Homo sapiens: one gene and its partners. The protein of the gene in region 1 purifies or fractionates together with the protein of each later gene. This does not show direct contact. Each region holds a gene or a part of one and is shown on either strand. Other genes may lie near its edges. The genes, in order: RAB27B, GBA1, SCARB2 and CHM.

Evidence for each region.
Region 2: the proteins of RAB27B (region 1) and GBA1 purify together in Homo sapiens (co-immunoprecipitation; 3 studies listed by BioGRID and IntAct, with this or other methods). This does not show direct contact.
Region 3: the proteins of RAB27B (region 1) and SCARB2 purify together in Homo sapiens (affinity purification with mass spectrometry; 2 studies listed by BioGRID and IntAct, with this or other methods). This does not show direct contact.
Region 4: the proteins of RAB27B (region 1) and CHM purify together in Homo sapiens (co-immunoprecipitation; 3 studies listed by BioGRID and IntAct, with this or other methods). This does not show direct contact.

Annotation. Positions count from the first base shown.
Region 1 is NC_000018.10:54,823,422-54,832,191, reverse strand, and holds the start of RAB27B (ras-related protein Rab-27B), read right to left. Parts: upstream 3,716-8,770; 5' UTR 3,492-3,715; intron 1-3,491. UniProt on the Homo sapiens protein: Small GTPase which cycles between active GTP-bound and inactive GDP-bound states. In its active state, binds to a variety of effector proteins to regulate homeostasis of late endocytic pathway, including endosomal positioning, maturation and secretion.
Region 2 is NC_000001.11:155,232,728-155,238,249, forward strand, and holds the end of GBA1 (lysosomal acid glucosylceramidase isoform 1 precursor), read right to left. Parts: coding exon 5,407-5,522; intron 4,852-5,406; coding exon 4,614-4,851; intron 3,743-4,613; coding exon 3,518-3,742; intron 3,118-3,517; coding exon 2,954-3,117; intron 2,585-2,953; coding exon 2,468-2,584; intron 2,374-2,467; coding exon 2,268-2,373; 3' UTR 1,725-2,267; downstream 1-1,724. UniProt on the Homo sapiens protein: Glucosylceramidase that catalyzes, within the lysosomal compartment, the hydrolysis of glucosylceramides/GlcCers (such as beta-D-glucosyl-(1<->1')-N-acylsphing-4-enine) into free ceramides (such as N-acylsphing-4-enine) and glucose.
Region 3 is NC_000004.12:76,167,751-76,176,331, forward strand, and holds part of SCARB2 (lysosome membrane protein 2), read right to left. Parts: intron 8,161-8,581; coding exon 8,041-8,160; intron 6,564-8,040; coding exon 6,394-6,563; intron 2,236-6,393; coding exon 2,117-2,235; intron 727-2,116; coding exon 653-726; intron 1-652.
Region 4 is NC_000023.11:85,959,814-85,968,394, forward strand, and holds part of CHM (rab proteins geranylgeranyltransferase component A 1), read right to left. Parts: intron 4,240-8,581; coding exon 3,852-4,239; intron 1-3,851. UniProt on the Homo sapiens protein: Substrate-binding subunit of the Rab geranylgeranyltransferase (GGTase) complex.

The DNA of each region.
Region 1 (8,770 bases):
TGCCACTGTTGTAGTTGGTCTACTGGAATAGCCTCCTAACTGGATTCTCTTCTACTCTGGTCACCCTACGACTTAGTCTCTTCAAGGAAGCCAGAGTGATCTTTTAAAAACATCACCTGGCCAGGCGCGGTGGCTCACATCTGTAATCCCAGCACTTTGGGAGGCCAAGGTAGGCAGATCATGAGGTCAGCAGATCGAGATTATCCCGACCAACATGGTGAAACCCCGTCTCAACTAAAAATAGAAAAATTAGCTGGGCATGGTGGTGCATGCCTGTAGTCCCAGCTATTCAGGAGGCTGAGGCAGGAGAATCACCTGAACCCGGGATGTGGAGGTTGCAGTGAGCCAAGATCGTGCCAGGGCACTCCAGCCTGCCAACAGAGCAAGACTCTGTCTCAGTTAAAAAAAAAGAAAAAAAAAATCACCTCCCCTGAGGCTTTTCTTGACCACCGAATCACACAGTCCCCTTCAGGTCACTCTCATTGTATTACCCTTTAACATTTTTTCTTCTTAGTATCACTAAAAGTTCCAGAATTACTAATTTGTTTATTTACTTATCCGTCTCTTTCCAAACCCCAGATATAATGTCCATGACAGCAGAGGCCTCGTATATCTCACTAACATCTGTTATCCACAGGGCTTAGACGAATATTAAAGTTCATAGTATGCTCAGTAAATATTTATTGAAAAATGTTCAACGGGCTATATCTAAATCATAGTGTTTTGTCATTTTACTTGGAATAAAAAACAAAGGCCAACATGTTCATTAGGACCTTCAAAGTCCTCCAAGACCTGTCCCCATTATCTCCTCTCCCCCATTTCTTGCTACCCCCATCTCACTCCCTCTGTGCCAGGTTCATGGGCTTCTTTGCTGTTCCTGAAAGATGCCAGAATGCTTCAATCTAGAATGCTCTTCCTCCACATATCTACATGGATCATTCCATTACTTGCCTCTGATTGATATTAAAATATCATCTCAGTGAGGCTTTTCCTGGGCATCTGATCTAGAATTTCAGTCCTCCCTGACACCGGCCACTGACACTTTCTGCATGCCTCCTCGGCTTTATACTCTCTGCTGAGCACTTCTTGCTACTGTGCCATAGACTCACCCTGCTTATCTAGGTTGGTCTTTGTCTCCCTGGTAAAAGATAAGCTCTACAAGGTCAGGAATTTTGGTCCACTTCTGTCCACACAGAGCCCTGAACAGTGCATAACACTCTTACCAAATATTTGTTGAACAAATGAACAAGCAACTTAATTATCTCAATATATTGAGCAGTTGTTTAGTTAAAAAGACAAAATTTATTTAAGATTTTTTTGGCCATTTGATAAACAGAGTGTTACTCTCCTTATTGGCAATCTAGACAAGTTTGTCTTATTTAAGGAGTGCCAATGGGAGGTTAATATTTGGAGAACATGAATAATGATTGCAAAGGGTGTGAAAGAAATTGAGTAATACTATCAACTCCATATTTGGGGTTTACAATAGGTATGTTATTATGCATAGTGATGTTGCTGCTTGCTACTTCTATAGTATATACTTAAGCCCATATATACCTAATAATGAATTTAAAAAAAAAATCATTCCCATTTGGCAGCCATCTTTAGAAAGTGACATATTCTTCATGGGAAACACCTGATTTGTCCTGTCTGTTTTTATTGAAATCATTTCCTTGCATCTCAACATTACAATTACTTGCTTAAGAGCTGAACTATTGGTCAACCTGCCTTGATGAATCAACTGAAGAAACTGGATTGTGAGATGAGTTTTATATGAGTAATTGTTCTATATTTCATGCCGTACTGATCTGAGAGCCCAAAAACCTAACCAAAAATTTGCAGGAGTGAGGGTGGGAAAAGAGCAGGTTTCTATTCTGAACTACCTGGACATTTGGATAACTTCCATTTTTCCAGAAAAACAGTGAAATAAATGAACAGCAATTCTGAAACCAACATACAGTTGTAGTGTAAACTGGCATACCAACTGATCTTCTACCAAGAAGATCAATTATATTAGGGTTACCTTCCCTATTGGGTCAAACATGCCTGTTCCAGAAATGACCTATGAGAAAGGGGAACTGTGGTTTGCTTACATTCAACAGATTCCCTTTATCCCTTCTTGGCAACTATGAGAACAGGCTCATCCAGTTTTATCTGCTATGTTTTGTTTTCCTTTCGAAAGCAATGACAGTAACACTGTATGAGAGGCCATAGTCAATTCTGAAACAGAAAAGCTCCATTAATATTAAACTATCTGTCAAGATTACCCCTTTTTGGTCATTGGTAGGAATCACCTCTTGCCTTCAAGGATGGCTGACCCCATCTGGGTAGAGGATTATGCTAGGAAACTATGAAAAATAACTATTTGAGGGGCAATGGCACATGACAGGTATGTCTCTCTCTTCATCACTGCAATATGGACTTTACAGCAGCTTGAAAATTCATTAAACTTAAATATCTGAGTTTATATTAATGCTTAAGTCTATCCTTTCCCTCAACTTTTCAAAATTTATAACCATAAAACCCTGTATATTCTATATATGAATGAATATGTGTGAATATAACTAAATATTGAGAACTGTAGACATTTTTCTTATAAACAGAACAAAATCAAAATTCAGAGCTGTATTATATTAAACAATAATTTTGTTGTTAATAACCTTGAAATTTATGTTATTACTTTGGGCTTAATTTAATGATGTGCAGTTTAAAACAACTGGAATTACATACCCTTAGCTTTACATCTTGACATAAAAAACTCACAAAACATGATACAGGTGTGAAGGCTCTAACCAAACACAGCTTTTTCCTAGGAATGCAGTCTCTGCTTACAGTTCACCTACTTCAGTAGTTTTCAGAGGCTTAATTAATGTTGCATTGGGTGGGAAAGTCTTGAAAGCTAATTTATTGTGATCAGTTGGGTGAACACACATGCACACATATACCCTAGTTGGTGCAACACTTAGATCAGAATTCGAAAGTAACAGAGCAAAAAATTGGAAAACAGAAAGTACTCTTAAGGTCTCTGTGGCTATTTCATCTAAGGAAGTGCATATAAATGTCTTATTGCTCTCCTGGCTTGCCTCACTAAGTCGCTCCTCCTGGAATGAAACTCTGAGCACATCATCATCCATGCTTTTTCTTATTCATTATTTTGATTGTTTTTTGAGATGCAAATGAAAGGAAATTGGCATTGCTGTGCCTAGGCTTTTTGTTTTTCTTTTTGCTTTTTTTGGTGGTAACCAGCTGTTTGATAAGCAAACACTCAAGGAGAGCCAGGTCGAGTTGGCCCATGCCATCCGTGCAGCACACAGCACTACTGTCTTCTTTGCAAGGATTTCTGCTGGAAACCGCGATCGAAGGTGCACACGCACTCACACATGCACACACACACACACAGAGGCCTCACTTCCCACGGCGCAGGCCGGCGCTGCAGCACCCGGGTGGGTGGGAACGCGTTCCAGCAGCAGCAGCCCGCCTTCCCAACTCACCAGCCTGCGAAGTTTCCTTGCCGGGAGAGCAGGTGTCAGATTTCAGAGAGGTTTCCTTCCCCTTCCCAAGCCCTGGAACTCCCGGGCTCCACCGTCAGCAAGGAGACAGGATCTGCTCCACAGGGCGATGAGCACGGGGACAGCTACTTATCTCCTCCAACCTGTGGCTCCGGATGGGTCCAAGGCCGGGCGGTCCGCAGCCCCTGCCCGTCAGGACTGCGAGTGGCAGGGCTGGTGGCACCACCCTCGGAGTCCGCCGCGGCGGCGGGGCTGGGTAAGGTTTGTGTGAGAAGAAGGCGTGTCTGCAAGTCCCAACGCGGATGTGCGGAGCTCACCTCAGGCAAGTCTTGCTGGTGACTCAACTGCTGCAGTGAGAAACACACTCCTCTCGGGGATGAAGTCTCCACACTGTGGGGCTTCTAGCCTTACCAGCGAGCTCATTTTTATTCATTTTTGTTCTGTGTTTTCTTTGATGTCTCTCATTCAAAGAGCCCAGGGCGCTGTGAGAACTGGGGCCCTGACATTGCGTTCTCTCCTCCGAGGGGGTGTCTCATTAACTATGAGGAGTGAAGGCGAGGGATTGCGAGTGGGGAGCAGAGGATGGCCTCGGGAAATAAAAGAGGGCGTTGGAAAGAAATTAATATTTTAAAAGTTAGGATGTGTTCGTATGAATGCATTAATCAGTATGCAACATCCAAATTCACTTCCCAAAGCCCTAATTCACTTCCTAAAGTCACTTCAGAGATCAATAGGTTACCACTAAGTAAGATAATGAGCACACGGAGGCATTGAACCAGTATTTGTTAAGCACCTACTATGTGCTATGCCGTGTTCTAAACACATTAGATTCGTCCACAAAGCAAAGATCCTGGCTGCCCATCTTGGGATTCCATTTTAGACACATTCAGACATCCCTAATTTACAGACTGGTAGTAAAGGTAAGAATACAAGGTTAGGTACATTATAATAACAACCGATTTACTCCTCTGTGAACAAAATTTAAAAGTTCCAAACCTGTGTCTTGCATTCATGTTAGTAAACAACGAGATGCCAATGACTGCTTGAATTTTAATTACTTAACTTGTTTCTTATTCGATGCCCTAGAGACAATCTGGGAGGCACTGCTGTTATCAGCTCCCAGAGAATTTCTTGTAGAAGGGAGCAAAGGAATAGCCCAAACCAAAACACAAAACAAACAATAGCAAACTAGTGGAAAAATGGAATATTAGAGAAAACATTTTGGTCTCATAGAAATCTGTCTATTCTATTATGAAACTATTAAAGAAGTTCTATTTTATGTCCTTCAATGTTCTTGAAAGTTGAAAAGAAGAGTAATAATAATGTCTTCATAGTGTTATTGTGAAGAATTGACTTCATATCAGTAATGTGTGTAGAACGTGCCTGGCACAGTAAGTTCTATGAATGTGTTGGCTATACTTATAATTTTGGTAACAATCTATTCCATTCTCCCCAAGTAAGATCCAGTTCCTAAAAATTATTTTGGATCTACTGCATAAAAGTCTTTGAGGCTCAGCCTGTAGATTTTCAAAGTATGTATGCTTGGAATCTATATTTATGATAAATCTACTTTGCATTTAACAGCAATATCTAAGTATATAAGAAGTGTGTGTCCATGGGCCCAGACAGAAATAAAAGAAAGAACATAAGAGCCTTGAATCTTTTCCACTGTTAACACATTGACTTAAAATCACCCTCTGTGCTATACAATGATAACCCATATTCTTTATCTAGTTCATGTGTTCACTACTGACATTAGTCCTAATAGCTATTATTTCCTGTATGCAATAGAGTTTCATCTCATTTGGCTTTCACAACATTACTGTGAAATAGGCAAGGCGTCTATTATATTTATTGTCTCCATTTTCAGAATGAGGTAACTGAGGTTGAGAAAGTCGCAGTAAATCTGTCCAAAGTGATGAAGTTCAAAAGGTGGAAGACAGGTCTATTGATCCTGAATGCCGAGCTCACAGTGGTCACTGTGTTGTACTACCTCACTGCAACTTCTAGAAAAGGTTCCTGCCATAAGAAAATCTGACACACACATTTATTGATGACTCTCCTTGCCACCTTTCCCTAGATAAGTGTGTCACCTGCTTTATAGGGCCAACTCTTGCAGGGATAGCTCTCCTGGAGTGACTTGCCACATATGGTCCTGTCTCCGAGGTTCCAAGGCTCAGATTCAGTAGTGTTACATAGTGACACTACCAGAGAGTGGTGGAACATTTCCTTCCCTGGGAAGAGGGGTTCCAAGGAAGAGAAAGAGTAGGAAGACATAAGAGAAATGTTGCTTGGCCACTCCATGAAGGCCACTTTGACCAGAGGTAGAGCAGAATAAAAAACAGTGGAAAACCAGTGAAAACAAGGTGACAGCATTGTGTGTCATGATAATAATAGTAATAACATCTTCCTGTACCTGGAGTTTATGTAGCATAACTTAAGTAGACATAACATCTGTCTAATTCAATCAATATGGCACTGAGGTAAACATTAATGTACATGGGGTGATGTGTAGTTACAAATGGCAAGATTATCACATGTATTTCATCTCTCCTCAAACTGCTTTATTACAAGAATAAATGAATTTTTTTAAATGTTATTGAATCACAAAGACAAATAAGCAGATAAAATAACACATAAACTTGTAATGAATTTTGGAAGAAGCTAAATCAGATGCAGGCGTGGTAACTGATTTGGAAGAGCAGAGGATTCTATACACTGCATGCCTGCAGGAGAGATTATGGTAAAAAGCAAGCCAATTCTTCCTGCAAAACCTGGGCAGGCTCAGGCCTAGGAGGCAGAAATCTCAGCATAGAAGGAGGCCAGGTGGTGGGGTAAACACAGGGGTTTGGTTATACGTCTGTATATTGGAATGCTTGGACCCAGAGTTCCCTTCCCCACTGTCACACAATCAACCAACCATAAGTTCCTCCATCTGCTCAATCCAGCTTCCAGGAGACTGGAGGTTTATTTTCTGGAGAAAGTAAACTAGAGTAATTTGTGGTTCAACAAGATGAACTGAACACATGCCTTTTTACCCTGCTCCTAGAGATAATGAATAAAAAAGAAATTTATATACAAAACAGGAAAAAAATCTTTTGAAATTGAAAATATACTCAACATTTACAAAAAAACTGACAGATGGGTTAGAAGACTAAGTTGAAAAATCTATTTAGCTGCAGAAAATTTTCAAAAAATGGAAAAAAATTCTGACTAATGGAAATCTCAGAAAGCTCTAGAAAAGACTTCTTTCTATGCAGAAAAGGATAAAAACACTAATTTGAAAACAATGCAAAAACAATACCAGAAATGAAGATGATGAACTTTGGAGATCGAAAGTTTCACTAAACGTCCAGGAAAACAATCCTTTAAATTAATCAAATAATTAAACTCATCGAAATATATCATTCTGAGATAAAATAAATGCAGGAATAAAGAGAAAAACCTAAAACATCTTCCAGAGACATAAAGCAGATCACATACAAGGAAAAAAAATTGCATTGGATTTCTCAAGAGCAATAATGGATCCAGAAGTTTCTTTGAATGCCTTCACATTTTTTAAATGAAATTATTTTGAACTTAGAATTGTATATCAAGACAAACTGTCAGCCAAGCTTGATTTTAAAAAATTTTCAGATATGCAAGGACTTAAAAAATATACATCCTGTGTGCCATTTTAAAGTAACAGTTCCCCAAACAAGCTTATAAATCAAGAAAGAGGAAGAGATGAAACCCCAAAAATGCAGGCCCAACATAAGAGGCAGTAAAATAAATTCTCCAGAGCAATAAGTGTGAAGCAGGCCTAAAGAGAGGTGAACAGATGGCTTGCAGTAGGAATGTCTCCAAGAAAAAAAAAAATGGAAAGAAAATGATAGATTGTTTGATACACATGTGCATTTGAAAATACAGTAGATAGCGGGAAGTGCCCGCCAGATTCCATGTTCTGCTCTTTTTCCTGAGCACCACACTAGATTTCATTTCTTAGCCCCTTGCAGGTGGGGAGGCATGTCACTGAGGTCTGGTTCATGGATTGTGGGCAGAAGTCATGTACATCGCTTCCAGGGTATGCCCATAAAATAACCCCTGAGATCCTCCACACTTCCCCTCTTCCCTTACTAGTGCGCAGATGCGAAGAACCAACGAAGAGCTCTAAGCCCCTAGAAGACATGAAAGCCCCTAGATGAAAAGTCATGAACCTGAATTAGGGTGTGACATGGCTACCTCAGCTGCCACACATTGGACTACCACATGAGCTAGAAGTAAACTTGTATTGTATGATGCCACGAAGATTTTTTAGAGTTGTTACCACAGTTAGATCACTCTGTTACAGTCTTAAAGATCAGTCAGAGGCAATTGTGAATAATATACAATAGGTACGGAGTGTGCTGAACTAATTTTAAAAGGATATTATTAACTCCATGAGAAACAAAAAGTTGCAAGAAAAAAGAAACATTATGATAGAATACCACTTTGTTCAGATCTGGACATAATAAAAATATTGGGAATGCCAACAAGAGAATTAACCCTAACCTACAATAAAACTACATGTGGAGGATGGCAGAGGGAAAGACTATCTGTGTATATGTGCAGAGAAGACAGCTAAACCCTCAATCATCATAACAAAAATCAATAAATAATGTGTAAAGTTGCTAAATAAAGAAATAGCAGGATAGGCAAACCAATTAGACATATAAAAGTACAAAAGCTGCTAAAGAGTCAAATGTTTGCCTGTGGGGATTAAGACCAGGGCTTAGGAGGCGATCTGCACTGTTCCACAAGAACTGTAGATTTTGATTTTGTTTTAAATTATGAGATGTATTACCTTAATAAAAATAAAGTTAATTTTAAATTACCCTTAAAATACACATAAGGAAACAAAAGATATTTGTTCTATAGAGAAAACACTATGCTTTATTAAAGTATTTGCATATACTTTAATATAATGATCTATAAGCAGTGGAGAAAGTGAATTGAAATGCAGAATGAAGATAGATTTGAGAGGTTTGCACAATGATTTATTCATTCAACAAACATTTATTAAGCAACTTGTGCCTGGTACACTGCCAGGTATGGGGGATGCAGTGCAGAACATGAAGGAAAAATAAAGGTGGGTTCTAAGAGAAAACCAGCATTTGTAAGCTTTAAACAACAAATATATTTGGTTTCTTCTCTCTTGTCTTTAGTAGCATGAGTCACTGACCTTCTGGTCATGATAATGCCTTTCATCCTTCACCATCCTCTTAAAAATTTCTCTTGACTTG
Region 2 (5,522 bases), on another chromosome or scaffold:
CACGCCATGGATATTTCCTCCACAGAAGTACAATGCTGATTATGATCTGTCAGCTCAGCAAGGGGCAGACACCCTGGCCTTCATGTCTCTCCTGGAGGAGAAGTTGATCCCGGTGCTGGTGAGTGTGCCCAGACCTCCCAGCATCCATGGCCAGCCGGGGAGGGGACGGGAACACACAGACCCACACAGAGACTCAGGAGAGCATGGAGGTCAGAAGCCCACCTTGAATCAGACAGGTGCACTGGCTCAGACCTGCCTGTTTCTTCCTGCCCACCCAATCCAGGTACATACTTTTTGGATAGACACCAAGAACTACGTAGAAGTGACCCGGAAGTGGTATGCAGAGGCTATGCCCTTTCCCCTCAACTTCTTCCTGCCTGGCCGCATGCAGCGGCAGTACATGGAACGGCTACAGCTGCTGACTGGGGAGCACAGGCCTGAGGACGAGGAAGAGCTGGAGAAGGAGGTAGCTCTGAGACCGGGGGCTATTGTATGAGATGAGCCCCAAGGATGCTGGCCAGGAATGGGAGTGCTTAGGTGCGGAGGTGGCACTGTTCCCGCAGCTGCAAGCCTACCTGTGTCGCCCCTACAGCTGTACCGAGAGGCTCGGGAGTGTCTGACCCTGCTCTCTCAGCGCCTGGGCTCTCAAAAGTTCTTCTTTGGAGATGCGTGAGTCTGACTCCAAGAGGGTAATGGGTGGCTTGGAAGAAGATACAGGTTCAGATGGAGCAGCTGGAGCTGGGGCTGGGGCTGGGGCTGGCTCAGGCTCTGGATAGGAGGTCCCTGAGACAGATACTGGCCCTGGTGACAGTGGGGCTGTGCGTGGGGCCAGAGCCTTCTCAGAGGTACAAAAGGGTAGGGTGGGAGGGCAGCCAGGCACAGGAAGGGCCTGAAGAGCTGTGGGGCACTGAGTGTGCCCTTTATGCAGCCCTGGGATAGAGCCCTATTCAGGGCCAGGCTGGCGCCACCTGGGGATCTCTCCCCATACCAGGTCTAGAACTGTGTGTCCTGTCCTTCCCTGGTGGCCGCCTGCTGCCCAGAGCCCACCTCCCAAGGCTGACTCTTCCTCCAGCTCCATCTTTACCCCTTCTACCCCAGTGGTTCTCCTCCATCCCACCCTTCTCTCTCTGCTCCAGCCCTGCCTCCTTGGACGCCTTCGTCTTCAGCTACTTGGCCCTGCTGCTGCAGGCAAAGCTGCCCAGTGGGAAGCTGCAGGTCCACCTGCGTGGGCTGCACAACCTCTGTGCCTATTGTACCCACATTCTCAGTCTCTACTTCCCCTGGGATGGAGGTAAGGGGCAGATGGGAGGGGCAGCCCTGGGGAGAGTGGGCAGGGATCCAAGAACTAGTTCTCCTAACACACCTTCCTTCCTTGACCCTCAGCTGAGGTACCACCGCAACGCCAGACACCAGCAGGCCCAGAGACTGAGGAGGAGCCATACCGGCGCCGGAACCAGATCCTATCTGTGCTGGCAGGACTGGCAGCCATGGTGGGCTACGCCTTGCTCAGCGGCATTGTCTCCATCCAGCGGGCAACGCCTGCTCGGGCCCCAGGCACCCGGACCCTGGGCATGGCTGAGGAGGATGAAGAGGAATGATTTGTCCTCACGCTCCCAAGACTGGTTTTTCTACTCTCATGCATTCCAGAGGCCCCCGTGCCTCCTCGTTGTTGGTACAGCCGGACACGGGGTGCTGCCACCCAGAATAAAGCCACTCACACTGACTGGGCTCAAACATTTTCTCCTTTAAGAGCTGCCATTTTTCCTGGCTGGTGCCATAGGAATCATCTGGGTGCCTGGGCACACCCGCTGCTGCTTTAAGGCTTCCGCCCTGATGCTGACACTGCTGCTCCACGGGCCCAGTTCTGCATCTCCAGGAAAGACAAACAGTCTCCAGTTTTGGGCCCAGCTTTCCTAGTCTCTTCTTTTCCTTACCCTCAGCCCTGATCTTGTGTTTGTACGGACAGTGAGCTCACCCTAGGCCTGGACCCAGGCCCAGTTTCCAAAGCAAGCAGCACACAGCGCATGTTCACATAAGCATGGGGGCTGGGGGGACACTGGGGCTTACTGATCTTTTTCTAGGGGCCTCCAGCCCCTGGCACCACCTAGAGGGGAAAGTGAGTCACCCAAACCATTGCCCCTGGGCTTACGTCGCTGTAAGCTCACACTGGCCCTGCTGTGCCCTCTTTAGTCACAGACAGCGTGTGAGCTGACTCTGTCCCTTTAATGCCCAGGCTGAGCCCAGTGCCTCCTTGAGTATCTGCTCCATCACTGGCGACGCCACAGGTAGGTGTGAATGGAGTAGCCAGGTGAGATTGTCTCCAGGAAGCCCACAGCAGGATCCTTGATGGTAAGAGGCACATCCTTAGAGGAGCTAGGGAGCAGGGAGGAGAAGCTGAGAGTGTGATCCTGCCAAGGCCCCCAACGCTGTCTTCAGCCCACTTCCCAGACCTCACCATTGCCCTCACCGGTTTAGCACGACCACAACAGCAGAGCCATCGGGATGCATCAGTGCCACTGCGTCCAGGTCGTTCTTCTGACTGGCAACCAGCCCCACTCTCTGGGAGCCCTCAGGAATGAACTTGCTGAATGTGGGAACAGATGGTCAGAGTCCCTCGGGGTACCTCCCATGAAACCCTCATCTAAGAAGTCACCCACCCACGGACCCACCCCATAACTCCTGCAGAGGCTCTGCCCTGGCTCTCTAGGCCTGGAGCCATGCTGCTGGGCACTGACCCTGCTTTTCTGCATCGCAGTCCAGCCTCAGGCATTGGGGTTTTCTGTTGCTACCTAGTCACTTCCTGCCTCCATGGTGCAAAAGGGGATGGGTGTGCCTCTTCCGAGGTTCCACCCTGAACACCTTCCTGCTCCCTCGTGGTGTAGAGTGATGTAAGCCATCCGATGTAGGAGATGATAGGCCTGGTATGGAATGGGGGTGCCCGCCCTCCACTCACCTGAAGTGGCCAAGGTGGTAGAACATGGGCTGTTTGTAAAACGTGTCCTTGGTGATGTCTACAATGATGGGACTGTCGACAAAGTTACGCACCCAATTGGGTCCTCCTTCGGGGTTCAGGGCAAGGTTCCAGTCGGTCCAGCCGACCACATGGTACAGGAGGTTCTAGGGTAAGGACAAAGGCAAAGAGACAAAGGCGCAACACTGGGGGTCCCCAGAGAGTGTAGGTAAGGGTCACATGTGGGAGAGGCAGCTGTGGGTAGGTCAGCCCTGTGAGGGGCACATTCCTTAGTAGCTAAGGAGTTGGGGGTGTGAAGATCCAGGCATCTCAAGGGGAGCTGAGAAGTCTGAGGCAGCTGCAAGTGCCTCAGTAGTTGCAAAAGGGGCAATGAGGTGTGCAGACCTGTGAAGGAAAGGGAAGATAGGGAATCATGGTTCCCCAGAGTTGCTCAAAAGGGCAGGCTAGCTGGGGAAAGCTGGACAGGAAGGGCTTCTGTCAGTCTTTGGTGAAACTAGTAAGAGGTCTGAGGTCTGCTTTGCAGGAAGGGAGACTGGGGTGGCTTACCGTGATGATGCTGTGGCTGTACTGCATCCCTCGATCCCAGGAGCCTAGCCGCACACTCTGCTCCCAGAACTTGGAGCCCACACAGGCCTCTGAGGCAAAGAGCATGGTGTTGGGGAACAGGCGGTGTGTCTCCCCTAGGGTGGCTTTGGCTGGAGCCAGAAAGTCCAGGTACCAATGTACAGCAATGCCATGAACATATTTAGCTGCTTCTGGGTCTGTCAGTACCTGCAAAGGAAGAGCAACTGATCCTGGACCTTGCACACAGGCTTCTGGAACTTCTAGTTCCTGTTGTAGGAATCCTGGAGTTGGGTGACGGGAAGAATGCAACTAGAGAGGTTTGGGGAGATTTTTTTTTGTTTTTGAGACAGGATGTCACTCTGTCACTCGGGCTGGAGTACAGTGGCGCAATCACGACTCACTGCAGCCTTGACTTCCTAGGGTCAACTGATCCTCCCACATTAGCCTCCTGAGTAGCTGGGACTACACGGGTGCCACACCCAGCTAATTTGTGTGTGTATGTGTGTGTATGTATGTGTGTGTGTGTATATATATATACATATAAACACATATATATGTATATACACATACATACATGAACCACCACCCCCAGCCTAGATAGTTTTGTTTTGTTTTGTTTCGAGATGGAGTCTCGCTCAGCCTCCCAGGCTGGAGTGCAGTGGCGCGATCTCGGCTCACCGCAACCACCATCTCCCGGGTTCAACTGATTCTCCCTTCTCAGCCTCCTGAGTAGCTGGGATTACAGACACCCACCATCATGCCCAGATAATTTTTTTTTTTTGTATTTTAGTAGACACAGGGTTTCAACACGTTGGCCAGGGTGGTCTTAAACTCCTGACCTCAGGTGATCACCCGCCTCGGCTTCCCAAAGTGCTGGGTTTGCATGAGTGAGCCACCTCGCCCAGCCCCTAGAAAGGTTTCAAGCGACAACTGTGGGATCCATGGCACCCTGGAGGTCCAGGGGAATGGTGCTCTAGGAATCCATAGTTGGGTAGAGAAATCGCTCTAAGTTTGGGAGCCAGTCATTTGGATGCTGGATTTGAAGGTCACTGGAGCACCATGGAGGTCCAGGCCTTACCACCTTTGCCCAGTGGGGCAGCAGCAAGCGTTGGTCATCCAGCATGAGTAGGCGGACATTGTGGTGAGTACTGTTGGCGAGGGTAGGACCTAGGTCACGGGCAATGAAGTCTCGCTGATGTTCAGGGGTGAAGCCCAGGCACTGGAAGGGGTATCCACTCAACAGCCCAGCAGAAGGCTCATTTTCAGCTGTCACTGCCCAGAACTGTAACTTGTGCTCAGCATAGGCATCCAGGAACCTGGCAAGAGAAAGGTCATGAATGATCCGGCCAAGAAAGTGGACCAGACCAGCTGGGTGTGGTGGCTCACACCTGTAATCCCAGCACTTTGGGAAGCCGAGGCAGGTGGATCACTTGAGTTCAGGAGTTCGAGAACAGCCTGGCGAAACCCCGTCTCTACTAAAAATAGAAAAATCAGCTGGGCCTGGTGGCAGGCGCCTATAATCCCAGCTACTTGGAAGGCTGAGGCAGGAGAATTGCTTGAACTCAGGAGGCAGAGGTTACAGTGAGTGAAGATGGCGCCACAGCACTCCAGCCTGGGTGACAGAGAGAGAGACTCCTTCTCAAAAAAAAAAAAAAGAAGAAAAATAAAAAGAAAGTGGGCCAGACCGAGAGAACAGGAAGCCTGATGGAGTGGGCAAGATTGACAGGCCCAAGGCTGAAAGGCCCAGAAGGTAGAAAGGTGAGCTGAGGACAGGCAGATCTGGAAGTGGAACTAGGTTGAGGGTTGGGACACAGATCAGCATGGCTAAATGGGAGGCCAGTCCTGATCCCACATCCTTGCTGATCCCTTACTTCACAAAGTATCTGGCCCAGGTCTGGTGGTAGATGTCTCCGGGCTGTCCCTTGAGTGACCCCTTCCCATTCACCGCTCCATTGGTCTTGAGCCAAGTGGGTGATGTCCAGGGGCT
Region 3 (8,581 bases), on another chromosome or scaffold:
GGCTCACTGTGACCTCCGACTCCCTGGTTCAAGCGATTCTCTTGCCTCAGCCTCCCGAATAGCTGGGATTATAGGCACCCACCACCATGCCCAGCTAATTTTTGTATTTTTAGTAGAGACGAGGTTTCACCATGTTGGCCAGGATGGTCTTGATCTCCTGACCTTGTGATCCACCCACCTTGGCCTCCCAAAGTGCTGGATTACAGGCATGAGCCACTGTACCCAGCCAGGTATTTCTTTATAGCAACACAAGAACAGTCTAATACACCAAGAGAGTCAAGGTGCATGAGGGAAAGGCTTAGTGGAGTGGATAAAAGTTGACTAGATAGTAAGGCTTAGCCAAGTTACCTAAACACTCTGCTTCTGTTTCCTCATCTGTAAAATGGGGATAATACAAGGTTATATGTGAATCCACATAAGGTGCTGAGAACAATACCTGATCCATGGGAAGTACTCTGTAAGTGTATGATTAAATAAAACAAGTAAATTCCAAGACCAAGGCACCCATGAAAATGCTGATCATGCCCCATCCCTGAAGGGCAGGGGTGAGCAGGCTTAGATGAAGTAGGCTGTACTCCTCCTGACATCAACCCCACCAGACGGGCAATGGAGCAAAACTGCTGTCCCCTCCATAGAAAGAAGCAAAACTTACACAAAGTCATCTAATTTTTTGACATAAATGTTGATTTGGAACCTCTTGGCTGCTTTTAGGATTATTCCAGTCAACTGCAAATCAGAGAAGTGAAAAGGAAACATTAGGATTTATTAAACTGCAAACAACTTTTTCAATAGAGCACCATTTCTGTGTAGTCCTCATAAACAAGGTGACCATTACCATGTGTGACAGGCAGAGTGGAAACAAGTAAAAGTGATCCCCAGAACAGAATGAGAACCATGGGTTGTATTAGGTGGCTGATAGACCAGTGTGTCTCAAACATGAGTATGAATGTAGGTCCTTGGGAATCCTGTTAAAATGCAGGCTCTGATTCAGTAGACTGGCCATTTCTAACAAGCTCCCAGGATGCTGCCACTCTGAATAGCACAGCCTTAGAAGGGATCCAACAGGAAGGAGGCCTAAAAGATAGCCTGTCAGGTCTGGATTTCCAGGCAGTTGTCCAGAGAGCTAAGAAGAGGGTGGTGGTCACTGCCAGAGAGTGGCATCCTAGTATAGGGCCCGCCTAGCGTAGCCATGGGGCACAGCTGCAGCACTTGTCATCCTTAGGGCAGCTCCATCTTTGCACTAAGGTTATAAGACTGTGTTCGTCCCTTGGTGACAAGCACTGCTAACAGTTTGGCTGATCCAAGGGAACTGATCAGCTGATGGCTAAGAGAAAAGGGAGAAAACCACACACGATTTTATTCACCAGAGCATAAGATCACTGGTTTCTCAGATACAAATGCAATGTATGCAGCTAAGAGTGTGAAGTACCCATAAAATACTGTGCTAAAAGAATGTTCTTGTTTTTTTTTTTTATTGGTCCATAATGTTCAAATTCCAAAAATGAAGACATGGTTAGCATGGTTTTTGTTTTTCTCGTCTATGAATACAGGAGTAAATGTGTATTATACACACACACACACACACACACACGTGTGTATGTCTCCTCTATGTATATCTGATACCTTTACAATTAATAATATAATAAACTCTCAAATAACCTGTAGAAAGAAGTTTGCCAAAAGTGACTGAGGTTAATATACATATTCATATTTCAACCAAAATATTCCTGGCAGTGAGGAAGCAAAGGGACATCTTTAACCTTATCGATCTGTGTCCCAAGGGGAGAAATAAATATATGTTGAGGTCCAAGGCTAGCATCAGAAGATTGACCAGGTTATATGGGTACATCAGTAGTTTCCAATAACTGAGTTTTCACTGTTGCTTTTTGTTAAAGGCAGGTTTGCTCGTATTTCTGCTATTCAATCCACAAAATTCAGCCTTCTAATTACAGGGCTATGAGACAATGCCTCCATCAGCACTGAGCTGAATTTCTCCCACTTGAATATGTATATGAAAGTAAGGATATTTTTAAAGAAGGCTCAGGACTAAACTGGTGAACAATGTATAGACAGAATAAAACATATGCTCTTTTACCAGGAGGAAGTATGTACTCACAGGATTAATGTCCACAAATGTCTCATGGTCTTCCTGATTTGGGTGCATGCCTTCTATGGCAGAAACAAACCTCTCATCTGCTTGGTAAAAGTGTGGGAAAGACATAATGATGGGTGCACCTGCATTTGAAGGAAAACAGAAATGAATGATGCTGTTTTTAAAATCTAAGCTGAGCTGAATATAAAAGTTCCTGGCCACAGCCTGGTTCCTAAAGAAAAACAAAAAAGCTACATATAAATTAACTTGGGTAGGCTAAAACACCATCCTTTACCTCCTAGTTCAGGATTTATACTTCATTTTCTGACATCTCATTTACCCCCAATTTTTTATTCCACATTATATATTGAAGTTCAGGCTAAATTATTTATTCTTCAACAAATATTTACTGAAGTTAAAGTATAAGTGCTTCATACACATTATTTTATTTAATGCTCCCAACAGCCCAGTAAAGTCAGAACTATTAGCCTCACTTTGCATTTGAAGAAAGTGAGGTTCATAGAAGTTACAAAATTTACCCAGGGACAGCTAGCCATCAGGCTATGAAGGCAGAATACTAAGTGAATGAAGGGTGTTGTACCTCAAAGCACTAGTTTCAACTACAATTCTCTATCAGTAAGTGGACTGACTTTTTATTTCTTGTCCTTTTTAAAATTAAAAAAAAATTTTTGGTGGTTTTTTGTTTTGTTTTGTTTTGTTTTTACCAAAGACAGGCATAATCTCAGCTCACTGCAGCCTCCGCCTCCCAGGTTCAAGCAATTCTCCTGCCTCAGCCTCCCAAGTAGCTGGGACTACAGGCATGCACCACCACACCCGGATAATTTTTTTGTATTTTTAGTAGAGACAGCGTTTCACCATGTTGGCAAGGCTGGTCTTGAACTCCTTACCTCAAGTGATCTGCCCGCCTCAGCCTCCCAAAGTGCTGAGATTACAGGCTTGAGCCACCACACCTGGCCTACATAATTTTTTAAGAGTTAGCCTGGTTGTGCTATACACCCAGCCTCTAACCAGATCACAAAGATTCTGGGGTTTTTCCTTTCCTATTCATTTTAAGAACCAAATAAGTGCTTATGTAAATTTAAATATATATATATATATATATATATATAACCAAATAGGGAAACAAGTTACTAAAGGAAACCTATTCTAGATCTGGCTATTGAAAAGAAGAGAGGGACCCAACAATTGCTGCCAGGGAAATACATTTTTGGAGAAAGGAGCTTGTCGGCAAGTTATTTAAATTTGCTTACATATTCACCAGCCCATGGCTTAAGGAACTCATCCCTCATCTCTCACATGCACATGCATTTTGCTGTTTACTGCTGAATAGTTCCACAAAGGCATGACTTCCTTCTTTGTGACCTATAATGACCTTGAAAATGTATTTTTTAAATCTGTTGAGGGCTTAATAGGGGCTACTGTCCTGAGTGTTTTATATATATTATTTCTAACTCTCACACAACCTCAAGAAGCTATAACCACCTCCATTTTATTAATGAGAAAACTGATGTCTGGAACCCTCCTTAATAAACTTTGGCCAATTTACCAACAAATAGAATAGGACTCAAACCCAATCTGCCTGACTCCAGAACACTCATCCTGCTATCCAAAATGTTTCCCTGGAGAATTCAAAACACTGGAGGATAATCCTGGGGAGTTTCACTTCAGTCCAAATTCGGGAATACGTTAAGAGGGAAGAGGAAAAGGATTGTAGCAAGAAGTTTAAATGTGTAAAGTAGAATACTTCTGTTGATTCTGGCATCAGCTTCTTAAGGAAACAGAATTTAATAAAAACAGCAAGAGAAAATATATCTACATTTTTGCTTTGAGCCAGATGCACACCAGATGAGGGGGCAGGGACACTGTTTCAGGACTATTACCAGTAAGGCAATGGGGGAGATCACAACCAGGAACTTGTTCCCATTCACCCTTGGTCTTTATCTCCAGGTAAAGGGTACCATGTTCCCTTGCACAATGGTCCCCAAATACCTAGACGCCATCTTTATGGAAATCAGCTGGAGTACTTGTTAAAAGTGTAGATTCTGGGGCCCTGGTATATCCAACATGGGACCCTGGGACATACATGCATGTGTGTGCACCATGAGTGTGTGTGCACACTTGCGCACGTGTGTGTGTATACCTATATATATATACTATATACATATATATTAAAATATAGCAAATATAAGTATATGCAAATATATGCATATTTATATATAACTATAAAATTTGTTAATATACTCATATATTAACAAATATATTAACATATACATACATAAATATATACATGTGGCTGTTAAAACTAGTCTTCAAGATGAAAAATACTTTTGTCAGTTGTATATATATATGTATATATACACATATATATGATATACGTATATATAAACAATTTTTTATATATATATAATTTTTTTGTTTTTTGAGACCAGGTCTCACTCTGTTGCCCAGGCTGGAGTGCAGTGTTGCAATCATAGCTCACTGCAGCCTTGAATTCCTACGCTCCAGCCTCAGCCTCCTGGGTATCTGGAACTATAGGTGTATGCTACTATGCCCAGCTAATTTTTAAATTTTTTGTTCAGATGGGGTCTCCCTGTTGCCCATGCAGGTCTAAATTCTTGGCCTCAAGTGAGCCTCCTGCTTCAGCCTCCTAAAGTGTTAGGATTACAGGCATGATCCACCATGCCTCACCAATATATTTTTAATAACTCTCCAGATAATTCTGATGTAAAGCCAGGTGTGGGGGTCACTGCCCTGTCAGACAAGGATCAGGAGGTATACTGCTGACTTCAGACTTATTCCAAAATGATATCTTATTCTTTTTTTTTTTTTCTTTTTTAAAAGATGGAGTCTCGCTATGTTGCCCAGGCTAGAATCAAACTGGGCTCAAACGACCCTTCCACCATAGCCTCCTGAGTAGCTGGGTCTACAGGCACACGCCACCATGCCAGGCCTGAAAGGAGATTTTAAAATGAGATAGATAAGGGAGCAAAAGTGAGCACATTACTATTCAGGAGAAAGGGACTACACAGAGAGCTCTCCAGAGAAATTTTAAAGAGGAATTACAGCCCAAGAGGGAATCACAGGGCAAATATGAGAAGACCCTGAGTTCCGCCAGGGATCTGCTCAGAGGGAGGAGTCGCATCAAAATCACGTTCCCTCTCTGAGCCCTAGTTTCCCCAATTATAAAAACAGGCCGCTGAATGTCTACTATCTAGTAAGTTCATTGTGAATAATTCTGCAACATGTGGCTGTTAAAACTACTCTTCAAGATGAAGAAAATAGTTTTGTCAGTTGTGCCACTGATAATTCTGCCTCATTCATGGAAAGGAGCAGAGTAGCTCTGACATTAAGAAACACTGGGACATTTGTGTCAGGGTTTAAAACTAACTCTGCTTCAAAATCACTGAGAATCTTTGCCATGATACGTACTTTCTTAAAACTGAGTTGTCCACTTTTTCTTTTAGCTTTTTTTTTTTTTTGGTGGGGAGGTGCGGAATCACTCTATTGCCCAGGCTGGAGTGCAGCAGCACAATCATAGCACAGTGCAACCTCGAACTCCTGGGTTCAAGCAATCTCTCTGCCTCAGCCTCCTGAGCAGCTGTAACTACAGGTGTGTGCCGCCACACCCAGCTAATTTTTTAATTTTTTTTTTTTTGTAGAGACAGGGTCTTGCTATGTTGCCCAGGCTGATCTTGAACCCCTGGCCTCAAGCAATCCTCACATCTCGGCCTCTCAAAGTGCTGGGAATACAAGCATGAGCCACCGTGCCCAGCCTTAGCATTGTTTTGAACATGAAATCAGTTAATGTTTTGCATGCATTAACTACATGTAAATATGTAAAGCACTTAGGACAGTGACTGGCATACATCAGGTGCTTAGTAAACATGAGCTATTATTACTGTTAAGACTTCTAAACCACTGTCCAGAAAAAAAAACACAACATGGCATTCTAGAAATAAAAAGCATCACAGAAAAGCCATGATTTTTTTTTACCATTCAATAGCCATGTTATGAAACATTGTTCTTGAAAGAAACTGATCTTTCTATTGGGCTGACAATATATTCTTTTTTGTTTGTTTTGTTTTTTAGAGACAGTGGTCTCGCCATGTTGCCCAGGATGGACTTGAGAACTCCTGGGCTCAAGTGATCATCCCACCTCAGCATCCTTAGTAGCTGGGACTGTAGGTGTGCGCCACTACGCCCAGCTACATATTCTTTGTTGAACTCCAATCCTTCTGCATTCTTGACACCCCTATCATGTCCCCTCTCTGAGTTCTTACCATTCTTGCAGATGCTGACATTCAGAACTCCTGAGCCCAGGCAGTTTCCCTCAGGTATACAGAAGCCGGCATTGTCTGACGTATTGGCTAATATTTCTGCAGGAACTTTATACCGAAAGGCAGGCAGTCCCTGTACACTCTCATAGTCACTGAAAGTAATATACACTGACCTGTTAGGATGTAAGAATAAAAAGTGAATGTGGACTCTGGTCAGTGTAATCTGCCCGAAATCCGCAAGTTAGCAACAGTTCTCAGGTACAACATGGCCAAAAGCTCACAGGGTAAGTAGAAAGGAATGTTTGGAAGGCATTCTGTCAACTCAACGTGTAATAAAGCAGAAGATGAATTGTAGTGGAAGGTGTTTATTGTAGCAACGGTGATATCATCCAAACAAGAAAAAACAATATGTGGTACAAAATTAAGATGATAACATTTAGAATGGAGACTCACATAAAAAAGAAATAAGAGGCCTCTCTAGACCTGCATGGACATATGCCAGTGTGGACGGGCCACCGGCAAAGCCAGGGAAGCCAGGGCACGGCAGAGCCAAAGCTAAGGTAGAACAGGCAGCGATGGCCGTGGCCTCGTAGGGTCTTAGGCACTTGAAAAGTGTCACATTGGACAGATACTTTATTGGAATACACACTTTGATACTCAATCCCCCCCTCCAAGAAAAATCAGATTCCATATTTTGCCCCAGTCATTTATTTAAATGGAGTTCAACGTAATTCTGCCTTTCATTCTTACTGATTTCAAACATAGTCCCATGTAATATGACCACTGCTTACACTGCATAGTGCCTAACCACTTTGATGTACACAGTCACCACTGAGCCTTCAGCCCTTCCTTTGAAGGCTGGCCGGAAGAGCCTTCTGGGCCTCACTTTTTCATCTCTGAACCAGAGCTGTTGATACATCTCTCGCAAGGTTGTGAATAACATAGGTGGTTTCACTGCACAAACCAAACCACCCCTACAGCATTTTTTAATGAAAAATTTTAGGCACCAGAAAGAGATAAAATACTCTAACAAATACCTTTGTATCTGCCACTTAGACAAATAAAAATTATATTATGGATATAACTGAACCTGTCTACGTAATGCTCTTGATTCCATTCCTTCTCTGCCTCCCCTGAGGAAACCACTCTGCTGAAATATGGACAACAGTATCTTTTATTTGGCTTCCATGTAGAGACTACCTATTGACTGGAAGTAGACCAGGTCAGTTGATGCTTGACAGAGCATATCATAGTAACTAAGAGCCAACACTTAATATTGGTTACTGTGTGATGGGCCCTGGGCTAAGTATTTGACTAATACTAACTCATTTGTCCTCATAACAACCTCTAACATAGTTAACAATTTCTATCTTTGTTTTACAAATAAGGAAAGTGAGGTACAGAGTGGTTAAGTAATTTGCCCAAGGTCACACAGCTATAAGTGGTAGAGCCAAGATTCAAACCAACAGTCAGAAGTCTGTGCTGTGAACCAGTACACTATACTGTCTCGATGTGCCATCAGCATTTATCACTGATTATGCATAAATATCCATGCATAATAAGTGTGTCTGCATATATTCCTCATGCTTTTGGTGGTCTTGCAGTGAAAGACCTTATTTTTGAAAAAGAACTTATCTTTAAAGCTTTTACCTGCAAAAGTCAGATGGGAAGACATAAAGGACCTCATCTTTGGTTATTAGTGGGTGAAAAGAATCTCCATCTGTTCCATTAATCATATTGCACTTGTCTGTTATCCACCAGTCAAGTGACCTATAATTGATAAGCACAAGAAAGAGTAAAGATGATCACATTTGAGTTTAGATTCTCTTAAATGGTCAGGACTTTGCAAGATTTAACTGGAGCTGTCTATCCACAGTATCTTATTCATACACAGACACAACAGTTTTAATTAGATCAAGGGGGAGAAAAAGTAGGTCCCTGGCCCAAATCAGCTTTCATAGAGGCAATGGCCAAATAGCCCAAAACATGTGGTGGTTTGAAAAGTATTTGTGCTGTAGCTACTACACATCACTCAATGACTACTAAGCAAGAGTGGGACTTTTCACTGGCCTGTAATTCATGCCTGGCCATGATAAATCTACAAATCACTAATATTTAATCTGTAAGATGTTTTACCACCATCTTGATTTGTAGAATAATAATTACAAGACTATTTACATGTTTTTATATT
Region 4 (8,581 bases), on another chromosome or scaffold:
ATGAATGTTACATCTATAATAAATAAATGGGAAAATTAGCTTTACTATACAAAGAAAAAGGAATCTCAAAAATCAATCTAAACCATTAGTCTGAGCAACTAATAAGTCAGTAAAGACTATCAGTAAATCAATACCATTCAAGTAAAATTTTATAAACTAATAGTTCAGCATTCTGCAAAACAAAATTGACATCACTTTTTTGAAGCTAATCTGATCATCCTGATTAAATATGGCACGTTACTTCATTACCCTCTTCCTAACACACTACATTACTGAAAGAGACCATGTTTTAAAGAATATATTGCCAATTCTTAACTCTATAATAATGATAAAAAATAGTTACTTCAAAAATCACTTGTTTAAAAAGATACACATTTGAGACTCAAGGATCCCTGCATAGCCATAATAATGTCACAAACATTAAGATATAAAATATGAAACTGCATTTTTATTTAATAAGATCCAATAAACCTTAAGGTTTAATGCCAGCTTGAAAAATAATGCATTTAAGATATCACAAGAACAAAAACAAATTTCAATTAAAATTATACTAGATTTTTGTTTCTGAAGCTCACAAATAATAAATGTGTACATATCAGAATCTAAGCCTCTTTTTCTTTTTTTTTTATTGAGACAGAGTCTCTCTGCTGCTCAGGCTGGAGTGCAGTGGCTCAATCTCAGCTCACTGCAACCTCTGTCTCCTAGGTTCAAGCGATTCTCCTGCCTCAGCCTCCCGAGTAGCTGGCATTACAGGAATGCAATGCCACGCCCAGCTAATTTTTTGTATTTTTAGTAGCACACAGGGTTTCACCATGTTGGTCAGGCTGGTCTCGAACTCCTGACCTTAGGTGATCCGCCCGCTTCAGCCTCCCAAAGTGCTGGGATTACAGGACTGAGCCACCACGCTCAGCCTAAGCCTCTTTTTCACTACCCTCTAAGCGATCTACCACAGTGATGAGGGGCTAAAGAGCAGTGCAATTTGATTACAATAATGGAAATTAGATTTATTAATTAACAATTTTTCCTTAGCATGTTGGTTCCATAATTATTAAGAGTATGGACTTACTTAGAAATGAGCTTTCATTTTAAGAATTTCATCTTTGACCTTCTCTATTAGTCTGAGCAGTATGACACTATACGTATTTTATTTAACTAACCTACCTTGAGCTATTACTTTTTAAAAGGCTATATACATGAATGTGTATTGTCAACTGTAAAGCCCCACAGTATTTAATTATATCATGATGTCTTTGAGGTTGAACGCATATAGAAATGTCAACTAGTTTGGAGATACTGAGTTGGACTTTAGAAAAGAGGTAGGTCTTTGGACGAGCACGGTGGCTCACGCCTGTAATCCCAGTACTTTGGAGGGCCAAGGCAGGCAGGTCACGGGGTCAAGAGATCGAGACCATCCTGGCCAACATGGTGAAACCCCATCTCTACTAAAAATACAAAAATTAGCCAGGCATAGTGGCACGCGCCTGTAGTCCTAGCTACTCAGGGGGCTGAGGCAGGAGAATCACTTGAACCCAGGAGACGGAGGTTGCAGTGAGCAGAGATGGCGCCACTGCACTCCAGCCTGGCAACAGAGCAAGACTCTGTCTCAAAAAAAAAAAAAAAAAAAAAAAAGGAGGTAGGGCTTTAGGGCTTTAAGATAGATATTTGGCAATCATCCTAAACTTAGACGTTTATTAACTGCAATTATTAGAACAGATAAAATTTCTAAGGAGTGACCAATTGCCCCAATAACATGGAATACATTGCTTTCCATCTAGCATGCACTGAATATGTATTAAATGACTTAACATTTTAAAAACGGAAAATTAATCTCCTGTATTACTATGGTTATATGTGATTAAGATACTTCTGGTTTTGAAAATGAGTACATTAAATGTTTATTAGTTATTTTGTAGAACGTATGAACCCATGAAACTCTGCAGGACGCAGTCCCAACTGCCTAGTCCACTGCCTCTAGACATGTTTGGTTTTTACTTACCATAAGAGAACTGGTTATTACTAACCATTCAAACCGATGAAAATACCCAGAAGTCTCCTTCAGGGTATCTTCAAATGTGTCAACTTCTAATTCAATTGTCTTTTTCCTCCCACAACCAGCATTCATTTTCTTATACAACTGAATAATTTTCTACACCAATTCCTACAATTGAAACAGCACCGTCTTCTACCATTTCCCTTTGCAAGATATATACTAAATTTCAGCTAACATAAAAGTTACAGACTTTTATGAAATAGCCTTGATTCTTAACCACATTTATATCATCATTTATTTAGGTAAAACATTCCAAATTCCAAGTAATTACTTCAAAATGGAATTGTCACACAAAGCCCATTTGTTATTTGACTTGTTCAGTTTTTATGTTTTGTTTAACCTATTTCATAGAGTACTGCTCATGGGACCAGGAAGGTTATTAGTGAGCTAGGATTAAACTTCCATCCACAGATGAACAGCCAAGGTAATGTGGAAAAAATGCTAGATTTCAAATCATGACAGGGTCAAAGTAGATGGAGGTGGGAGAGATAGTACGGAAGTATGAAGTAGAACCAATGCAATAGCCAACTATGCAAAATCAGACACAGAGTGCTACATGACAGACAGAAAGAAAAATGGGTAGTAAAAAGATATTTATATTTTCAGGCATCAAGTTCAAAGGGAGCAAGAGTATGAGGATATGGGATTTGCAGAAACAACTTGTCAAGGGAAATGTTTTGGTCCCTCTCTGTCCCCTATCACTTGGAACTTGAAGAAAGTACATTAAATTGAAAAGCCTAGTTCTGTGCTAGTTCTGTGGCAAGTCTTGTGCTATTCACTATCCTCTCCTACTTCTTTTCAATTACTTATTGTTAGCTCTCAACTTATAGGATTTAGTCTGTTTTTCTCTACTTTTACCCTGTCCTGTATCATGACCCTTTAAGGCCATAATCCTTTATCTTACTGATTTTCTATTCTTTTGCACTAAAAATAGTCTTGCTTCCTATAAACCAAATGCAATATTGTACGCTTCTAAGATGGAGGGACCTCCTGTGAAGTTACAGTGAACTAACATTCAAGTTAGTTATGTTCAGGAACATAACCGAAGACAATAGCTTTCTTCCCAGCCTTCCTGCCTCCATCACTATTAAATTTTCCTCTGAAGCTTTCAAACCTGAACACATGATTTTTTTGAGACTTTTTTCTTAAATTATACTTTAAGTTCTGGGATACATGTGCAGAAAGTGCAGATTTGTTACATAGGTATACACACGCCATGGTGTTTTGCTGCACCCATCAACCCGTCATCTACATACCCGTCATCTACATACCCATCATCTACATAAGTATTTCTCCTAATGCTATCCCTTCCCTAACCCCCAACCCCGACAGGCCCTGGTGTGTGATGTTCCCCTCGCTGTGTCCATGTGAACACGATTTTTAAAAATTCATTGGTTTATTCTGAGTATTCATCATCATACAGTTGTGAAAATAGTTACTATACATAAAGGCTAAAAGAATCGATGGAAATTGACTGTAAATAACATGGATTTCTAAACAGGTTCATTAGAATTTTTCTTTTGATAGAATTCATAGTGTCCAGAGAATATTAGGTTGTAGTATGTGCTCAAGCACAAAAGTATTCTTCAGGTATAGATTAAAAACATAATTAAAGCATTTTCATGTGAGCACTTTAAATATGTTTTTAATTTGTACTTAAGGAATATTTTAAATGAATTACAAACATCTGGCTACTATCTCTTTACAAAACAAATGTTCTGCATCTCAGAGAATTACAAAAACTGGGTTTATGGGCCCAGATACTGTTTTCAATGCAAAGATGGGTAAAATTAGTACTTACCTTTGATACTAAATCAATATTAAATCTCCTGCCTTCTTTAATAATTTGTGAGTAAGTAATTCTGTTTTTCTTTGGTTGCTCTGTGGTATCTTCTGCTATAGGCACATTTTCACTCATGTCTTCTGCTGAAGTTGATGGCACACAAGTTTTATCATCACAATGGTTTTCTTTTTCCCCTGTCACTTCAGCACCATTTACTTCTAGCGCATTCTCTGGATCGCTGCTTGGAGTTTGTTCTGTGAGCATTTCACAGCTCATAGTGCTTAATGACTCATCCTCCGTAGGCAGGAAGGCAGAATCTGCAGCTTCTGTGGAGTTTGCAGATGTCACAAGAGCATGATTTTTCTGCAGTGCACCAGCTTCTTCGACATCTTCATGCAAATCCTGACTAATAAGAAATATAATAATAAACACCAGGCTTTATATATATATTCCCTTACCCCTTTTATCAAGTTCAGTGTACGTTTTGCTTATGTGACTCAGACATTAAACATTCATCTGTTAATGTTTCAGTAAAATATGAAACAAAATTAAGATTTGAAAGATATAAAGATTTCATGTCACATGCACATTTTTGAGAATTTAAGACAGACAGGGGAACTGTATTGGAAGCAAATTACCACAGTGATGAAGAACACAGTCTTCAGAATAACAGATCTTGGTTCAAACCCTGACCATATGACTAGTAAGCTCTGCGAACTTAGATACTTATGTATCCTCTCTGAGACCACCTAAATTACCCTCAATTTAGGTAATTACCTAAATTACCCTCTCTGAGACCACCTAAATTACCCATCTATGACACAGAGATAATACCACCTACCACAAGGTTGTTTTGAAGATTAAATTAAGTACTGCATGCAAAGAGCCTGACACAGTGCCTGGGACATAGTAAATACTCAACAGTGGTAGTTATCAAAGATGATTATTACTGAGGAATTCCTGACTTGGTGATACGACAGAAGACCTTCAATAAAGGGAAAAATATCTGCCTTGAAAAGATTAAGTTGGCCTATCACAATGTGGTATCTAATAGGACCTTTCTGTATAATTTCCTGCCTATTTTAGTACTGATGTCTATTACTCTAGTCGAAGCCCCATTTCCAAATTTATTATTGGAGCTAACATTCTCAGTCCACCATTGTCTTGATTTATAGAACAGGCTCCCATTCAGTCTGCCTGCTTTATGAATTTCTGTGATATTTTATCCTCCACAGAACCCACTATTTTCACTGAGTTGCCACACTGCTCAATACCTGGCAGAATGCCTTGTATGTGATTGGTCTTGGCAAGTAAAAATCTGCTAGTTGACTAACAGTAGCCCTAACAGTAGCCCTTCCTTATATCAAATACCCCACAAAAAAATCTTCCTTTTCCTGTCTCTAAACCAAACCACCTTCCTTATTTACTAATCTTCTGGTTTCATCTCCACCTACTTTCCAACATGGCATCTCTAACTCCGAATTTATCAATTCTAATTGTCAAATCATGACAGTTTGGTTCATATCATTTGTTTCTTCTGTCCTTTTCTTCCCACTCTGCATAATATCACAATTCTTCCATTCTCAAACATAATCACATACTTTAGCAAACTACTTTAAGAAAAAGTTTAAATTTAACTTCCAATTAGTCTTCCTTACTCCAATTACACTCATCACTCTATTATACCATGCTCCCATAATACACATATGCAGTTTACCTTGCATGTATTTATCCATTCCTTTTTAATAGTCCTTTAGTTTTCCAGTATATCCTTTATCTTCCAAATCAGACTGTAATTCCTTGAGGGAATACCTTAGCACCGCTCCTTCTGTGCCCCTCACGACACCTACCACACTGCTCCATAGATGTGGTATCCAATAAATGCTTAATTAATAATGGTTTATACGTGCAGACTATTTTTGTTTCAAATGCGAAACAAACTTGTTGCAAAAAACACAAAAAATAAGGCCAAGAAAAAAACACGGTATTGTAAATTAGAAAGTCCGAGTTAAGTGAAAAAAAGAAGTGCCTTATTAAAAATAACACAATGAACACTACAAAAAAAAATGAGGGACAATGATAGAATAACACTCAAATGTCAAGAAATAAAATGCCATATTTACTGTTATAGTAATTCTAATAAAATCTAGTGAAGAAACAAATTGATATCATTAATGTTACATGAATATTTTTGAGATCTAGGAAACCAAAGTGAGGAAAACACCCACTTTGTTCTATCCTAGATTTATCACTTAGGAAACACTTGGCAAGTCATTTAATCTCTCTGATTCACCACATATAAAATGGGGATCAGTCCATTTGCCTTACCTTTTATGAAACTGTTGTGAGATAAGGAAGCTAACATATATGAAAAGTAGTTTATAAACTCTAAAAGGTTAATCAAAGATAAGATACTAATCAGGCCGGGCACGGTGGCTTACACCTGTAATCCCAGCACTGTGGTAGGCCGAGGTGGGTGGATCACTTGAGGTCAAGAGTTCAAGACCAGCCTGACCAACATGGTGAAACCTAGTCTCTACTAAAATGCAAAAATTAGCTGGGCGTGGTGATGGGCACCTGTAATCTCAGCTACTTGGGAGGCTGAGGCCAGAGAATCACTTGAACCCAGGAGGCGGAGGTAGCAGTGAGCCAAGATCGTCCCATTGCACTCCAGCCTGGGCAACAAGAGCAAAACTCCGTCTAAAAAAAAAAAAAAAAAACTACTCAAAAATAAGATATTGTTAAACTGCCCACAGCTCAACAGTCAACTCAAAACCTGTATACCTAGGTTTTCTGCATTCACATGACAAAAGCCCATTGGCCATATAAGCACATAATAGCATCGCTATTAACAGCATTAAGAATGAAGAGTCATAATATGAAAGGTGATTTATATATTTTCTACAGAATTGTTCACACTCTTATTCACTTTTATTATCTTGAAAACCAACAAAACTAAAGTGTGTTACATGAGGGATCTAAGGGGACAATTTTCAGCAAAAGTTCCACACCTAATTTTTTGTTTTTCAGTAAAAGTTCCATGCCTAACTCTTAAAGCAAAAGTTCCATGCCTTTAATTTTAAGAAAGGATAATTAATTACACTTTACAGATAAGACAAAATATGGCAACTTCTCTTATTACAGACTATGATGATGACACTGTGAAAACTGAGCATAGCAAATGATCTAGTCAGTGGTTCTCTATTACATTCTGTGATGGGGGCCCTATAGAGTGAATGAAATACATTAACCAGTACTGGACAACCTGGAAGATATAAGTCAAAATACTTAATTAAAGGTATAAGCGAAGAGAAGAAATTATTCTTCGGAAATTTTTTCTACATCAATAAACTATCGTTTTACTGTTCTCAACATTATAATTTGGTGAGATTCCTAGCACTACGGAAAACACAAGCAATAAAAACACAACACTGTCCTCACTTTCCATTAAAAACAACCACAGTATTTTTGGAGTTCTGCCAAGGTTGAAGTTAATACCTAATGAGAAAATATAAAGACACCCAAAAGCTCCTAAAACTCCACTGACATCCTCAGAAAGCAAAATTCTGTTCATCTAAAAGGGTTATCTTTCCCCAAATTTAAAACTTTATACTGTGGTAAAAGACATTTTCTTAAAAAGATATTCAACCTTTCAGAGAAAACCTCAGAATCCAGTAATAGTTCAATTCTACTAATTTAAAAGTGTTTGAAAACTATAAAAACACATTTACCAATTACAAAACAATGTAGCTGCATTATAAGCCTTCAAATGAACCTTGGAGTTCTAAGATATTACAATGATTTTAACATACACAGGTGCTCCTCGACTTATGATGGGGTTACGTCCTGATAAACCCAATATAGTAAGACAAAGTGCATTTAATACCCCAATAAAACCATTACAAAGTTGAAAAATCATTAAGTCGAACCATCTTAAGCTGCAGACTGTTTATCTAAAGGAAAACAATCTGCATCATTAGTTCTTATAAAAATGTTCACTATCAAAATTGATTTCACAAATTAAATTTAGTGTCATTTACATTGCTAGCTTTAATTCCAAAGGTCATTTATAATGTAACAATATTTTTTAGATAATTTTTCTTAATAAAAACTGCTTAACACTGCTTTTTGTAAATGCATTTTTCACTAATTGCCAAAATTCATATACTACTCTGAGAGTTTGGAGGTATATATTCTGATATCATCTAGTACTGCTTCCCAATTAATAGTAATAACAAAGAAACACCTCAAAGTAAATGTGTCTTATGAATACCTTGTAACAGCCTTTTAGAGGAATCAAATGAAAAACTGAGGAACAGGTGTTTAATTTATTCAGCACAGGTGTTCACCATTTATTTTTCAGCCATTTGCACCTTCTCTTACCCAATACGACTTGCTGCAGACATTGTATTCTTTTACTTTGATGTTTATACTTTGTTCTAAGGCCATTTATTTCTGATTTTCACAGTATATATTATACTGCTACCCAGCTGTTTATTCCTAAAATAAATGTTTAATGGCTATTCATAAGAATTACAAAAATCAGACTATTCAGAAATTGTTGTTCTACAAAATAGCAATATAAAAAGTGAAATCAATTTTGAATTGCTGCAATATGATACATTGGTAGATATATATTTCCCAGTTTGTTACCAACCTAAAACGTTAACACATACTATAGAATACAGGTGAAATGTCAACCTCTTGTCATGTTTACCCAAGAACAAAACTTCATAAAATGGTGTGCA